Linked DNA regions of Homo sapiens. The protein of the gene in region 2 purifies or fractionates together with the protein of the main gene of each other region. This does not show direct contact. Each region holds a gene or a part of one and is shown on either strand. Other genes may lie near its edges.

What was found.
Region 1: the proteins of USP37 (region 2) and FBXW11 purify together in Homo sapiens (affinity purification with mass spectrometry; 7 studies listed by BioGRID and IntAct, with this or other methods). This does not show direct contact.

Annotation. Positions count from the first base shown.
Region 1 is NC_000005.10:171,996,135-172,004,089, reverse strand, and holds part of FBXW11 (F-box/WD repeat-containing protein 11), read left to right. Parts: intron 1-779; exon of another isoform or gene 780-909; intron 910-7,038; exon of another isoform or gene 7,039-7,200; intron 7,201-7,955.
Region 2 is NC_000002.12:218,558,039-218,565,993, reverse strand, and holds part of USP37 (ubiquitin carboxyl-terminal hydrolase 37), read left to right. Parts: intron 1-3,180; 5' UTR 3,181-3,321; intron 3,322-5,110; 5' UTR 5,111-5,174; intron 5,175-7,316; 5' UTR 7,317-7,340; coding exon 7,341-7,496; intron 7,497-7,955. UniProt on the Homo sapiens protein: Deubiquitinase that plays a role in different processes including cell cycle regulation, DNA replication or DNA damage response.

The DNA.
Region 1 (7,955 bases), on a different chromosome or scaffold from region 2:
TTAAAAATATTTTTTACATTGGTTTCAAGATAATACGATTGATGGAGGAAAAGGGGTTAAACTGATGGTGTTTTGAAAGCCTAAAGCATGAAATATTTTTAGATTTTTATGAGTCAGCTTCAGTACTCAAATATTTGTGATTGTGCTGCTTGTACCAGTTTGGCACTTAATGCTTAACAAGATAACTTTCATTTGCTGTTCCAAAGTGTGCTGTATTAAAAAGAGGAAACAGACTTCTTGGTTATCTCCATTTTCTAATCTTCATCCCTGTACTTTCCTTAATATTGATTCTTCTGTTTTTCCTTGCATTTTTGATAAGTATATTAGGAAATAAAGCTGGTGATAGCAGAATAGTTAAATTTCTAAAATATAACCCCCACTTTGACTCCTACCGCTGCCTGAGGCCTGGGTCCACCCAGGTTGCTTCTCCTCCTGACCCACTCTATAGGATTCAGCTTTGAATATTAGTAAAGTCTATAAGCTCTTAATTTAGACCCTGAATTTACAGTTACTAATGGTAAATAATTTAACCGCCAGATGACTTTTAGGGCCTTATATTGGCCCAGGGCTATACCTGTTAGTGGGCCTATTTTTCCAAACTTCTGAGTTTGGTAAAATTCGCCTTATGAATGAGGCAGAAAACTAGTAATTCATTTTGGAAATATGTAAAGTTTATCCGGCTATGTTCAATGGACTTCATTGGGAAGAATGAGAACTGTACAATATGTATCACGTGGTATTTATTAACCTTTGAGTTAGGAATATGACTTGATTTTCAGGCACTCATCACTAGAAAGCACTCACAAGAGCTTCTGATTGGAAGAGAAAGATGATTAGATTACCCTGTAAGAAGCCAGCAGAAATTGATGCTATCACTTTAGGAAAGGCGATCCTGCCTCCTCCACGGGTGTGAGTGAATCCCCTCTTCCCTTTACACAATTAATGGATGGTTTATAATTAATTGTTAAATGACTTCCCTTTTTGCTAAGTGACCTTAAGTGAGTCATTTCCCTTCTGTCTTATCTCTTAAGTGGCTGTATTACTTGTTCAATGAAGTAATGTAGGTTAAAATACACTGATCCTTATTAAGAAGGTGTGGGCAGGTGCGGTGGCTCTAGCCTGTAATCCCAGCACTTTAGGAGGTGGGAGGATTGCTTGAGCCCAGGAGTTAGAGACCAGCCTAGGCAACATAACAAAACCCTGTCTCTACAAAAAATAAAAAAATTAGCCAGGCATAGTGGTTCACTCCTATAGTCCCTGCTACTCAGGAGCCTGAGGTGGGGAGGATTGCTTGAGCCCAGGAGTTTGAGGTTGCAGTGACCTGTGATTGTGCCACTGCACTCCAGCCTGGGTAACAGAGCAAGACACTCTCAAAAAAAAAAAAAAAAAAAAAGAAAAGAAAAAAGAAAGAAACGAATAAATGAAGTTACTGGAAATGTTGTCTTTTTTTCTTTTTGGATCTTTTTTTTTTCTTCCTGTCATTGACTTTCTCGGGGTGAGTGGGGTTGTTTAGTGACTTCATCAAGAAATTGGATATTACTTTGTCACCACCTTTCTCCTCATGTAGCACACCACTAGGGGTGCTAACTTACTGAATGCAGACTCAGTGGACACAGGTTTCAATAGGGTCCAAATGAATAAACCACACACACACACACACACACACACACACACATTTATATAAAATATATGGACCTCACTGACCTGCCTAAAGAGGCATTGGCTCAAATATATCAATTTTTGCCCCTGATTTTGCAGTAGGTTAGATATCCTTTCAGATTTGACATGGATAAACATGTTCCTGCACACAAGTCTTGGCATTCTGGGCTCTTGACTGCTATAGTCTGTCTCCTGCAAATAGGGAGCTAGCCCAGGAGAATCACTCAGCCATTACATAGATTCACAACAGCACATATATGCCTCTTACTAGTGTTGTTTGAGCCTGTGAATTCTAGAAACAAAATTATCTGCCCTGTAAGATCTGTGGGATCCTGGGTTCTACCTTGTGATATTTGTTCTTCATAGAAAACAAAGCATTTTAAGTCCTAGTGATTCCAATTCCAGTCTTCCTTTGTATTCCATTCTCCCTTATGGCTTTTCTGCCTACTTTCCTTGCTTACTGTATATTCTAGCACATGGAGGACCATGGTCCTCCAGATTCTGCTCACACGTTTCCTTTGTCAGCACTGATAGGAATGGACCTAAGCCCATTTATTGAAGGCTACTGATATTTATCAAAAGGATCTAATAGGTGGTTCTCTGGCCAAATTGGCTTAGGTTATATCTCAGCAATCTTCTCTTTCATTTATGCTAATGAAGTCCTATCCACCCATAAAACACAATAGGTGCCACCTCTTTTGATGTCAGTTTATATTATGGTAGCAGAGACTGTCTGGTTTTTGTGTCTGTATAGCACTGCCTATATGACACTCAAATGAAATGAATGAATTCTGGCACTTTGTATTTATCCTGTAGCACTTAACATATTTCAGGCTTGTAATATAGTTACCTGTTTGTGTCCTCTGTTGAATGATAAACTCCTCATGGGAAGGGCTGGGACCTTAATTATCTTCCAGTGACACACAGTTCCTTCATACACACGGTGTCTTCTTTGTGGTAGGCTTTCAGGAAATGTTGGGTTGAATTTTCCTGGTGATCATTTTCAGACATTATTGCCTTTTGCCTGTGTCTTAACTATCCTCTTTTCTAAACATTTTCACCCACATTACTAATTCTCACAATAATCAGTTCCAAATTTTTATGGGACTTATCATATCATCCTATTATATTATAAAAACTTGTGGTTGTGCCTAAACTCTTCTTCTAGAGGCTGTGTTTGATTGCCCTGTTACTCCTCAGCACATGGGTGCTCAATATGGATTTAAATTAATGTTAGATTTTCTTTCTTTCATGCAGTGAAACCTTTTAAGATTTCCTTTTGAATATCTTAAGACAAAGGTAGAGATGAATAGAGAAGAAAGATGGGGAGGGGGAAGAGGTGGGTGGTGTGTTGTTTATAGGACATCCATAGACATATTAACCATTATTTACAGACTTTCCACACATACAGATTGATTTACATAGAACTCAGAGACTGGTTGTTAGCAAAGAACTGAGGAAACTGAATACTTTTTGCATCAGTTGGTGCAGGTTTGCCAAATAGTTGATAAGCTCCAAGGGCTCCATGACCTTAGAAAAGCATGGTTTAGCAGAAAGGGCATGGGCTTTGAAGTGAAACACCTGAGTTTGTATCCAAGCTCTGTCGCTTGCTAGCTGTGTGACATAAAGAAAGGTAACCTTTCTGCAGTATGATTTGATTATATGTAAAAATAAATAAGAAAACTTAGGTATTGGTCTGAGTTGTTGGGAGGATTATATGAGAGATGTGTGTGAAAGGACTTTGCAGAGGCTTGCTTTTCTTCAAATGCTGACCATACTAACTTTCCCCACAAGTACAGGGACCCTAAAGCGAAGTCAAGACCGATGGTGTGGAAAAGGTCTTTCTCCTGAGTTGCGCATGTATTTATTTGTGAGGCTTTACAGAAGACTAACATTTAGTTGCTTTTAGCCATACATTTAATGAGCCATCTTTGGGAAAAACAATGAAATCATGCAGAGTCAATACTGTCTTGGAAAATCTGGGAGGTACTATTTCAATGACTACCAATTTGGCGTAATTAGATCTATGCTGTAACTACAGAGAGAACCCACCCAGTCCTATTTTTATGCCTGGTATCCTGACAGAAAGAGACTGGTGATTAGTTTATATTGACATTGAGCATTGGGATTTATGTTTGATCGGTTTAGTTTAGACTGACCAAATTGTGGTTTTTGAATTCTTATTCTTACCATCATCAAAGCTGATGGTTTTAACCTTAACAGAATAAGCAGTGAGAATTCATACAAGATTTTCTTCTGAGTTGTATTGTTCATTGAATTAGATGACAATGGGGGAAGAAACGTGTTGGTTAAGAATGTGCTCGTTACCCTTGGTTAGTTTCTGCTGATCGCAATTGCTTAAGAGGAAGTTTGTCTTTGTAGGCAAATGAGAGACAGACCAGGAAGACCTGACAATCCAGTAGGGTATCTCTTACCTGGTTCTTAGTGTTTTAATGAAACTAAAAGATGGAAGAGTTCTGTGATGTCAGCGGGAAGCGTTTTTAGGAAATTCCCTCTCAGGTTGAGTTAACAATGAAGAGCTTCACAAAATGGAAAGCTGTGAAGTATAAACACTGGGACATTAATAGGAAAAATAAAAAAAAAAGCTTTGGCTCTTTGGCTTGTGATAGAGAGGTGTGTAAATATAAGCATATTGAATGTAGGAAACCATTGTATAGTAAAAAGCCTCTGATCCACAGAAGAAAAAGAAAGACTGAGGTTCTACTATTGTGAAAAAGGAACTTGAGTAATTTTTAATGTTTATTTTTTTAGGAGTTAACTGGAGAACATTGAACCAGTTTTGGTAACTAACAATAAAATATATTTTGGCCCTCTGAAATGACTACATGATAGATTCAAAGAGAAAGGGGGCAGAGGGGCAGGAAGAACTCAGTCCTGACACTACTCACCTGGCATCTGTTAATCTTTGTATTACTAGCATAAGGCCTGCCAGCAATTAGGGATTGAAGAAATATATATATACAATTAGGGATTGAAGAAATATATATGTGTGTGTATATATATATATATTTTTTTTTTTTGAAGGGAAGGGAGAAAAATTAACTCACTAGTACAGGGGAAAAGCCTGAGGATTCAAGAGGTCCAGAAATGAGTCTGTTAGTCAAATTGCTGTGGTTGTGTTTTGCTATAACTTGTTTTGCATTTTGGATAGTCGTACCTTGAAAAGCATAGTATACTGTTTTAGCAGTTCGCTACTAGCCATAGTTCCCTAGCTACTTCTGTCAAAATTGGGTTTCCAGTTTATTCTTAGGCTTAGGAGTAATACCACTTAATGGGAAAAACTTGAGAACTCATTATTTGCTTGGGATTTTACTTTTGTGATCTCCTTAAAGTTGTGAGTCTTAAGGTATTTTCATCTGATTGTTATGGCGAGGTTAATCATAGACCGGTATTTCAGTCACTTTAATTGCCTTACCTACAATATGAACAATCAGAACATCTTTAAGAGTCATTGCCTGTGGACTGTCAACAAATCTTAGAATTTAAAAATTACTTGGGTTCAGCTGGATTTGAGATTCTTTGTCACAGTTACAATCTTTGCTGCTAAACACAAAGACTACTTGAGTACCATTATAGTATGTCTTGCCACAGTCTTTTTTTTTTTTTTTTTTTTGAGACGGAGTCTTGCTCTGTTAACCAGGCTGGAGTACAGTGGCACGATCTCAGCTCACTGCAGCCTCTGTCTCCCGGGTTCAAGTGATTCTCCTTCCTCAGCCTCCCGAGTAGCTGGGATTGTAGGCATGTGCCACCAGGCCCGGTTAATTTTTGTACTTTTAGTAGAGATGGGGTTTCACCATGTTGGTCAGGCTGGCCTCACACTCCTGACCTCAAGTGATCTGCCCGCCTCGGCCTCCCAAAATGTTGGGACTACAGGTGTGAGCCATCGAGCCCAGCCTATAATGTGTTTTGTTTTAGCATTAATATTGTGGGCTTTAGGCTGGGCATGGGGGCTCACACCTGTAATCCCAGCCCTTTGGGAGGCCAAGGTAGGCAGATCGCTTGAGCTTAGGAGTTCGAGGCCAGCCTGGGCAACATGGTGAAACCCTGTCTCTACTTAAAAAAAAAAAAAAAAAGACAAGAAAAAAATATCATGGGCTGTAGAATTGCATGGCTCTTTGTTAATTAAATGCTTTTTTAAGTGGCAAGATCTAGGGAATTACCCTTTCAGGATGGCCCAACTGATTCATGTAGGCTGAAATATTTACTCTTCTGTATTTTCATTGTTCTCCATTTTGATGTTAATTAATTTAGGACCTTTGAGAGTAAAGCTTGATTTCTTCTCCTCTCTCAGAAATCATGGGCTTTCTGACCCTTGAACTGTGGAGTCCATAGTGCTCCATGAAAAGGGCATGGGCTCTACTACCTAGTAGATGTGGGACTTTGGATAGGTTACTTCTTTCTGCTCATCTTTTTTTGAGAATTAAATATGGGTAATTAATGTAAAGGGCTTGGCCAGTTAGTAGCTTTTCAATAAGGTAGGTATTACTATAATTACTGCAGGAGCATTTTGGCTATAATGTAGCAATTGTGGAAGTAGCAAATTTATGTTCGAGTAAGTTCAGTCTTTTTGTTTTTATCTTTGTTGTTCTGCTGAATGCTTTTTCTCTTTCCCTTTTAGTTTGTTTAGAATTTGCAGTCTAATTTGATATGGTAGAAAAAGAATATTGATATAATATGGACAGGACTTAATATTTAATGGTGTCACCTAGTAAATTGTATATTAGCGTTCTTTATGATTTTTCCCAGTTTACGTGATCATTGGCCATTGTACGGGACTGGCCTTTACTGAGTCAGAAGTTCAGTCTTCAGTTATATGTTTTGAAGCACACTATATTTTAGCTAAGGGTAGAGGATTTGGGTAATATGTAGATATGATGTCTTATATGTAGCAAACCAAAACATTTTGTTAGGTACGTAAATAAATATCTTTATGGTAGATATTTGAGCCCTCTCGTATCATTCTTTTTGGCTGACAAACTATTTTTCTAATGGTGGAGGAGCTGTCTTAGAAAATGGATAAGGAAGTTCAGTGTAGCTGAATGGTCTAGGACAATTTATATGGATGATAGGGTAGGTATTTTTTAGCTGCTCTCATTTGGAAGTTGCATGCTGTTTATCATGAGTAAATATTAACATTAGGGATGTTCCATTATTTGTTACGAGTTTTGTATCCTTTCAACACAGAGGTGAGGAATGCTGCTGCAGGCATTTTATGCCAAATAGCTGACTCAGGGGTTATAACTTTTTTCCTGTGCCTCAGATCCACCATTCCATTGACCCTTCCTTCCATTTCTTGGAGGCTGTCCTTTGCCGCTGGTGCCATGGTGGGTGTATGGATTGCTTTCTGTCTTTCAACAGTTACCGAAGTGCATGTTTGGGATTTTGTTGAAGAAAGCTGGATACAGTAAACGGAAAGAATCTTGGAAGATGCTTGACTGCTGTCTTTTCTCAGACTAGTCTGAAAGGGAAAACCCCCATTCATTCTGGATTGGTGGATCTGAAGTACAAAATATTTTCCAGGTAAGCAATTACCCTGTATTGTTTTGTTTTGTGGAACTCAACTCGCTGAAAGAAATTTTGAAAAATATTTTCCCTTATTTATTTTGTCCATTAATAGGGAAAGGGAGAAATATTAGACGTTTGTGCGTAGTGTCATGTTTGGCCATGTTTGAGTGTGGATCAGTGAAGGTCTATGTGTCTGAATTCCTGGTAAAAACTTTGTTTTACTGTAAGAAGTGCAGTTATTATTATCTTTGAGACATCAGGTCGCCCAGGCTGGACTGCAGTGGCACAAACATGGCTTACTGCAGCCTTGACCTCTTGGCCTCACACGATCTTCCTGCCTTAGCCTCTCAGGTAGCTGGGACCACAGGCACATGTCACTATGCTCAGCTAATTTCTTTTTTGTAGAGACAGGGTCTCACCATGTTGCCCAGACTGGTCTTGAACTCCTGGGCTCGAATGATTTGCCTGCCTTGGCCTCCCAGAGTGTTGGGATTACAGACATGAGCCACCACGCCTAACTCAGTTATTTTTATTGTAAGCCCAAATAGTTTTTATTCATAGTCTAATAGGAAATACAGTAAACAGAGACATATGTTGTTTAGGGAATAGCTTGTAAAATATGGAAAACAAATGGTAACTTTGAGGCATTCTCACATGATTTATATAATAGTTAATACCTGGTCAAAATATTTTTTGCGGTTTCATGTAAAGTGGTGATATTTTATTCTGAGGTCTCTTGGCAGGTCGTCTTGGGGAGGTTTACTAACTGT
Region 2 (7,955 bases):
CACTGCAACCTCCGCCCCCTAAATTCAAGCGATTCTCTTGTCTCAGCCTCCCAAGTACCTGGGATTACAGGCACCCGCCACCATGCCCGGCTAATTTTTGTATTTCTAATGGAGACAAGGTTTCACCATGTTGGCCAGGCTGGTCTTGAACTCTTGACCTCAGATGATCCACCTGCCTCGGCCTCCCAAAGTGCTGGGATTACAGGTGTGAGCCACTGCACCCAGCCCAGAACTTGTAATTATATATTTACATGTGTGATTATTTAAAGTCTGTCTCCTATTAGAATATAGGCTAGTGACCACTTCTTTTTTATTTCCCAATAATTTGTTAAATAAGCTGGAAGTTGCTGTAAGAACCATCATGTCTTTTGGAAGCAAAGCTTGCTGATGTTCTTGTCATCATCTCATGACAAACACTTTTCATTCTGAAAAGTTAGAGGACACATGAGAAAAAACAAAACGTTTTCCAACTTTGGATTCTTTTACCCATTTTTATATCATAAAACCATTCAGATTTTAAACTCTTTGAATTGGAGATAAACTTTAGGTCAGCTTTCCACTTTCAGTAACAAAACTAATTTTTTCTCCTTTGTCCATTTGTTTTATAGGTCTTTTTAAAGGAAAGAAAGCCTTCAAAAATCAGAGTAGTGGTTTGTATATTTTAACAACCGGTTAATCTTTAAGACCAGTGAAGATGAGATTTCCATAAATAAAGCAAAATTCCATATTTAAGTCAGTTGTTGGTGAATGACAAAGAAAATATTAATATATGGCCAGCTGCATTGGCTCATGCCAGTAATCCCAGCATTGCGGGAGACCAAGGTGGGCGGATCGCTTGAGCCCCGGAGTTCGATACCAGCCTGGGCAACATGGCAAAACCCCATGTCTATAAAAAATTACAAAAATTAGCCGGGTTTGGTGGCATGTGCCTGTAGTCCTAGCTACTTGGGAGGCTGAGGTGGGAGGATTGCTTCAGCCTAGGAGGTGGAGGTTGCAGTGAGCCAAGATGGCACCACTGTGTTCCAGTCTGGGTGACAGAATGAGGTTCTGTCTCAAATGAAAAAGAAAGAAAATATTAAAATATAATAATTTTTGTATGTGTAGAACAGGATTCGTGTTGAAAAATAGGGAATTTAAAATGGAGGTGTATGAATACCAAACACAAGCATTTGGATTTATTTTATTTTCTAGGTAGTGATGAGCTATTTAGTTTGGGAAGGTCCTAGCATCAATGGCAACCATTTAGCACTTAACAAGTGTTTGTTATTTTGTTGGAGTATACAGTTAGAGTACCCAAGTTCTGTGTGTTACCTCCCTGTCCCGTGCCCCACCTCTACCCCCCACTCCCACCTTAGGGAGAAAGTTAAGAAGATACCTAGTGCATAGTTCAGTTGAAAAGTGGTAAAAAGAGTAGTTCTTTAGAAAGGATGTTACAATGTAAAGGATTTGTTGGAGGTAAAACCCCAAGAGCTGAGACTGGAAAGGGAAGGGGTTGCCATAATTCATTGATGAGGATGAACTGTGGTTGTAGTTAAAAATGTAGGTTCTGGCATTAGACATAGCTTTGTTTCTCACTGACTGTATTTATAAATTATGTAATGTCTCTAAACCTCAGTTTCCTCATCTGTGAAATAGAGATAATATCCCTATCACTTAGGATTATTTTAAAAATTAAATTGAGATAATGCATGTATGGCATTTAGCACTGCTTAGTAAATGTTGCATAATAAATGTTGGGTTGCATAATAAATACTAGGTGGGATGATGGCATAGTGATGAGTTTCTGAGAGTAGTAGCTATTGAAAATCTGGGATTTGAGTAGATAAGAGTGAGGATAAAGCTGATGCCAAGATTTCTTGCCTGAATGATGGTAGAAGGACAAAAGTAGGGAAGTCTGGGAGCTTCTTTTTTTTTCTTTCTTTTGAGACGGAGTCTTGCTCCCTCACCCAGGCTGGAGTGTAGTGGTGTGATCTCTGCTCCCTGCAACCTTTGCCTCCCAGGTTCAAATGACTCTCCTGCCTCAGCCTTCCAAGTAGCTGGAACTACAGGTGTGTGCCACCACACCCAGCTAAATTTTGTATTTTTAGTGAGAACACATTGTGGTCTCAATGTGTTCGAGACCACATTGGCCAGGCTGGTCTCGAACTCCTGACCTCAGGTGATCTGCCTGTCTCTGCCTCCCAAAGTGCTGGGATTACAGGTGTGAGCCACCGTGCCTGGCCTCTAGGAGCTTCTTAATGAGGGCATGGACTGTATCATCTTCACATCTATATGCCTACCAGGGTGCCTTGAAAGTGCAGTAGCTTAATAAATGTTGTTTACTAAATGAACAAAGGAGTTTAAAGTTGATGTTGTAGCATTCAGATAGGCAGTGAGAGATGTGCGGGTAGAACTTCAGAGAAAGTTCAGGCCTAGTGAAGCCTAATTTGAGAAACAATGTTAGCTTTGAAAGAAAAGTGAAAGCACCAAGTTTACCCACCTTTTGAAATAGTATCAACATGTTATGGAAGTTTTAAGACTTAAGACATTATTATGTAACAATGTTTATAAAGTGAACAAAGGACATATTCTTTCTCACTGACTTCTTAGTTTCAAAATGTAGCAAGAATGAATAAACCAAGGTACAAGTTGAACAAGGTGCAGGCTCATCCTGTAATCCCTCATTATGCACAGCAGATAAGTTCCTAAAGTTCTGTTGATCTTTTATGTGTGTCTCTGTGTGTTGTGCATCATATTTTAAATATTTTCATTAAGGTAATCTGTAGTTTTTAAATAACCAAGAAGTTAATCTTTGTTGTATAAACGATCACTTTCCTTTTTTTTTTTTTTTGAGATGGAGTTTTGCTCTTGTTGCCCAGGTTGGAGTGCAATGGCGTGATCTCTGCTCACTGCAACCTCCACCTCCTGGGTTCAAGCAATTCTCCTGCCTCAGCCTCCCGAGTAGCTGGGATTACAGACATGCACTGCCACGCCCAGCTAATTTTGTATTTTTAGTAGAGACGGGGTTTCTCCATGTTGGTCAGGCTGGTCTCGAACTCCTGACCTCAGGTTATCTGCCCGCCTCCACCTCTCAAAGTGCTGGGATTACTCGCGTCAGCCACCGTGCCCAGCCCACTTTCTTTTAAGTATTAATTTTGTATATTGGGTTCTTTTTAAAAAGCACATTTTTATTTTCTTTAGCTGAGTTGATGGCTTCCGGAGAACTGGCATAGCTGCAGAATATGAGTAGTGTCCCAAGAAGAGTGCTTTGCCTTTGGCACAAGGATCAGAATAAAGGTGAATTGCTATTACATAGGGTTTTTCGGTAAAAGTCACTGAAAAGTAAGTAATGTTTTTGTTTTGGATATATGTTTCAAAGAGCATGCAATCTGGCGGGAACTGACAGTTTTGTGTTTGTTTTGTAGTAATAGTTTTTGTGTTTTGGCCATACTTTATTTACCACTGAATGCTCTCTGATTAAGGATGTTTTCAAAGCAGTACCTAAAATGTGAGCACTTAAATAAATGTACAGGGCATAGAAACATTTTTGCTAATATTGTTGCTTTGAGCATTCATGGTGATGCTCAAAGTTGAACAGTAATTTTAATAATTGTGAAGAAATTTAGAGAAAGAATCTCTGGACATATTTAAAGAATAATTCATTTTAATTATCTTTTGTCTTCTTATTTTTTTGCTTTAATAAGACAATTACCATTACCGAGTTTAAGGAAACCCTGTCTTTGTCTTAGGTTCATAGGAAGTTTAACTGTTACTGGATCATGCTTCATGCTGAAAAAGAAACTTAGTTTTTTACTCTTAACCAAGTAGAGCAAGCCCTGATAATATAATGAATGAGCAAATGTAGCTGTCAATTCATTTAGTGCAAAAGCAGGTAATGAACTAAATTGAGGCATTATGAAAAAGTTTATTATATTGGTTCTGCCAATTTTATGTCCTACATCTTTTATATAAAGCTTTTTAAAGAGGGTAATGTGTAAATTGAGTCTTGATTTTAGAGCCAGGAGAAGAAATTAAGGAGGGTTGGGGATGGGGAGAACACATAAAAATCCTCTAGACATGACCTCTGTGTATGCAAAGGTATAGTGGCATGAGAACATAGAGATTTTTGAGGAAATTATAAGTAATTCAGAAGGATTTGGGGGTTTTATTGGGAATAGACAGGTAAGCAGGGCCTGAGTCCTGAAGGGCCTCTACGTCACATTAGTGAGTTTAGATTTTATTGCGAGAACAAGTGGAGAGCTATTGAATGATATAAAGCAAGAGAGGGATATGATTTGATCTGCAGTTCATTATAAGGCTGTCTGAAAGGTGTATGGAGGTAGAATTTTTTTTTTTTTTTTTCTGAGACAGAGTCTGGCTCCAGGCTGGAGTGCAGTGGTATGATCTCGGCTCACTGCAGCCTCTGCCTCCCGGATTCCAGCGATTCTCTTGCCTCAGCCTCCCAAGTAGCTGGAATTACAGGCGCACGCCACCACACCTGGCTAATTTTTGTATTTTTGGTAGAGATGGGGTTTCACCATGTTGGCCAGGCTGGTCTCAAACTCCTGACCTCAGGTGATCTGCCCACCTCGGCCTCGCAAAGTGCTGGGATTACAGGCATCAGCCACAGCTCCCGATCTGTGGAGGCAGAATTGATGGGATTCTCCTGACTTTCCATCTCTAATCTAATACCAATAATTATCAAGAAGGAAGCCAAAGACAAGTCTTCTGTTTCTGGCATGGGAAACTGGAGTAGAAGAGTGATGTATTCTTTGTAGCACTGAGTGGCGGAGTGGAAAAAAGTCTCAAGGATGTATCCAACAATAAAGTCACAAATTATAATTGCAGAAAAAAGTATTACAGATATACATTGCTGGCTCAAGTTTCTGTAGCTCTGTAGCATTACTAGTTTGAGCCAAATGTCATGTTAACAGACAGTTCTATAAACATTAATGGACTCTATTACTTTGACGAATTCATATTACCCAGCACATTATACTAATATCTAAATCTGCCCATAGTAAGCACTTAAAAATTTTTGATGAGATGAGTGAATAATAATAGAGTACTTATGATACTTAACACCTTTAAACTCTCGAAAGTGTTTTCATATATCTTCTTTTATCTTCAGTTATTTGCCATACAGTAACCAGAGACCTCCAACTAGGGGCCCCCAAACTGTATCCTGCCTGTAGGTGAGTTTTGTTTGATTTGTAGCTGTTAAAAATAAATTTGAATTCATTGCCAACAATTAAAAATGGACAGTTTTACATAAACGTTTGGATGTCTTTATTTTCTTGAAAAGTTAGATGGTCTGGCAATGCTAGGTTCGCTATTTCTACATGGTAATAATTGGCTAGATTGGGTAGCAATTGTTCAAATTTTGCCTGCTTAAGTCATTTCTGTCACCTGCTAGCCCCTATAGATAGTTGAGTTAGTGACTCCTGTTAACATTGTATTTATTGAGGTCTTTGGAGAAAGAGGTATTATGGACATGGAATAAATTCAGAAAACAGACATTAATTCCATTAATATTAATTACTGCTGTCTGCTGAGTGCCTAGTATGTATTATTTCATTCTACAACACTAAAACATTTGCTATTCCTATTTTGTGGTTGAGAAAACTTATGGTTAAAGAAGGTAAGTTACAAATTAGTAAGTGATAGGGCTGGCTGGCTGCTGATTTCTAGACCTAGCATCATTTTCCTTTATATACTAGCCTTTCTGGCTTTTCTTGTTGAGCTGTTTAGGCAAAGGTAATGTTTAATTGTGTTTAATTTAGTAAATTATAAGCAAGAATCCACTTTAGAAGTAGTGTTTTTAAAGGTTTGAAATAGTATAAAATTTGAGTTCGCAATTTTAAATGATTGCATATTTATGTATGTAACACACTATTTGATAACATTCTTTGCTATAACTGTAATTTTATTTACTTGTTGACTTTTGCAAAAGCTAATTTGAAGAGTTTTACACATCCGATTATTGCTGTAAGTTTAAGTTTTTTGTGTTTTTTTTTTGTTTGTTTGTTTTGAGACAGGGTCTCACTCAGAGTGTCACCTAGGCTGGAATTGAGTGGTGCAATCATGGCTCACTGCAGCCTCGACCTCCCTGGCTCAGGTGATCCTCCCATCTCAGCCTCTGGAGTAGTTGGAGCTACAGGAGCACATGACCATGCCAGGCTAATTTTTTGGTATTTTTTGTAGAGATGAGGTTTTTGCCGTGTTGCTCAAGCAGTCTGCCCACCTCATCCTTCCAAAGTGCTGGGATTACAGGCATGAGCCACTGTGTCCGGCCATTTTTTCTTTTTAGTTTTCAAATATTGCCTGACAAGCACCCAGCCATTTTTGAGTATTAAAAGTTCATTCAGGAAACTTGAGTATTTGTTAAAGATAAAATTGGTAAAGATTCTTTCTAGGAATGGTAGTTTAAATATAAATGGTAGGTGGTTCTTTGGAAGAGAGGTTTTTTGTTTGTTTTCTCTAGAGATTAAATGATTTCCTCAAATATTGTAATTCTGGAGGTCAAATAACTTGGTTATTTTTAAAATTTTTTACTCATTTAATGTCTTCTGTACATACGGATATGCTTAGATTGCTCACTGTTAGAAGGAAGCATTTGGTGATATACTTTGATGTTTTGGGAGGAACTCCATTCTAAGAAATGGAGTCAGAGGCCTGAATTTTGTATTGTTTTGTTTTGTTTTGAGACAGTGTCTTCACTCTATTGCCCAGGCGGGAGTGCAGTGGGTAGTCATGGCTCACTGCAGCCTTGACCTCCTGTGCTCAAGTGATCCTCCCACTTCAGCCCCTCTAGAAGCTGAGACTATAGGCGTGTATCACCATGCCTGGCTAATGTTTTTTCAGTTTTTTTGTAGCGATAGAGCCTCCCTGTGTTGCCCAGGCTGGTCTCAAATTCCCAGGCTTAAGCAGTCCTCCCACCTCAACTTCTCAAAGTTTTGGGATTACAGGCTGAGCCACCATGCCTGGCCTGAACACACTTTTTTTTTTTTTTTAACTTATATTTGGAAATCCAGACCCATTAGCTTTCATGAAGGAAGAGAATAATCAACACTTTAATGGTGAAGGCAATCACTTTGAGAATGGGATCTTATTCCTGTTGACATGTCTTTAGCGGTAGCAGTATGGTTGTGAATGATACAAAATGTAGAATTTAGGCACTAATAAATACAGTACTGGACACATGGCAAAGAAGGGAAAATGAAGGCGCAGAAGAAATGCATGGTGGTTAGAAATTAATTACTAGTAAGTTATAACTTATCTTATTTTTCTTCCTTAGAACCTGCCAGGTAAAGGTATATTTTTGCTTTTTAATTTAGCCAGAAGCAATTTTTAAAGAAAATATGTCTCCTCTGAAGATACATGGTCCTATCAGAATTCGAAGTATGCAGACTGGGATTACAAAGTGGAAAGAAGGATCCTTTGAAATTGTAGAAAAAGAGAATAAAGTCAGCCTAGTAGTTCACTACAATACTGGAGGAATTCCAAGGATATTTCAGGTAATACCAAATATTGATTTGGAATAGCTCTTGAAGCAGATCATTTAGTAAATAGCTATTCTGTGCCATAGTAAACATCACAGTAGCCCTCCTCCTAGATTAATATTTCTTGCTTCTTATTTCTAGGACATTAATATTTTTATGTACATGTTTTATAAATTATTCATCAGTATTGTTGTTGGTATATAATAAAAGCAGGAAGTAGTCACCATTATTGAAAAGAAAACTTGTGGGAGGAAGCTGACAAGAGTTCGGATACTGTATATCTAAGCTATTTTTAAAACCACTTTAAGATAATTTTAGTTCTTCCTTTTTTTCCCCTTAACATACATGACGATGGATTCATCACTATTTAGTGTTAGTTTTTAACAGAATTTATTAGTGTCTTCTAAAAGCCAGTGTCTACTTCCTGAATAATCCTGCCAAATGTCATGGTGTGAATCATTCAAGGATGATTAT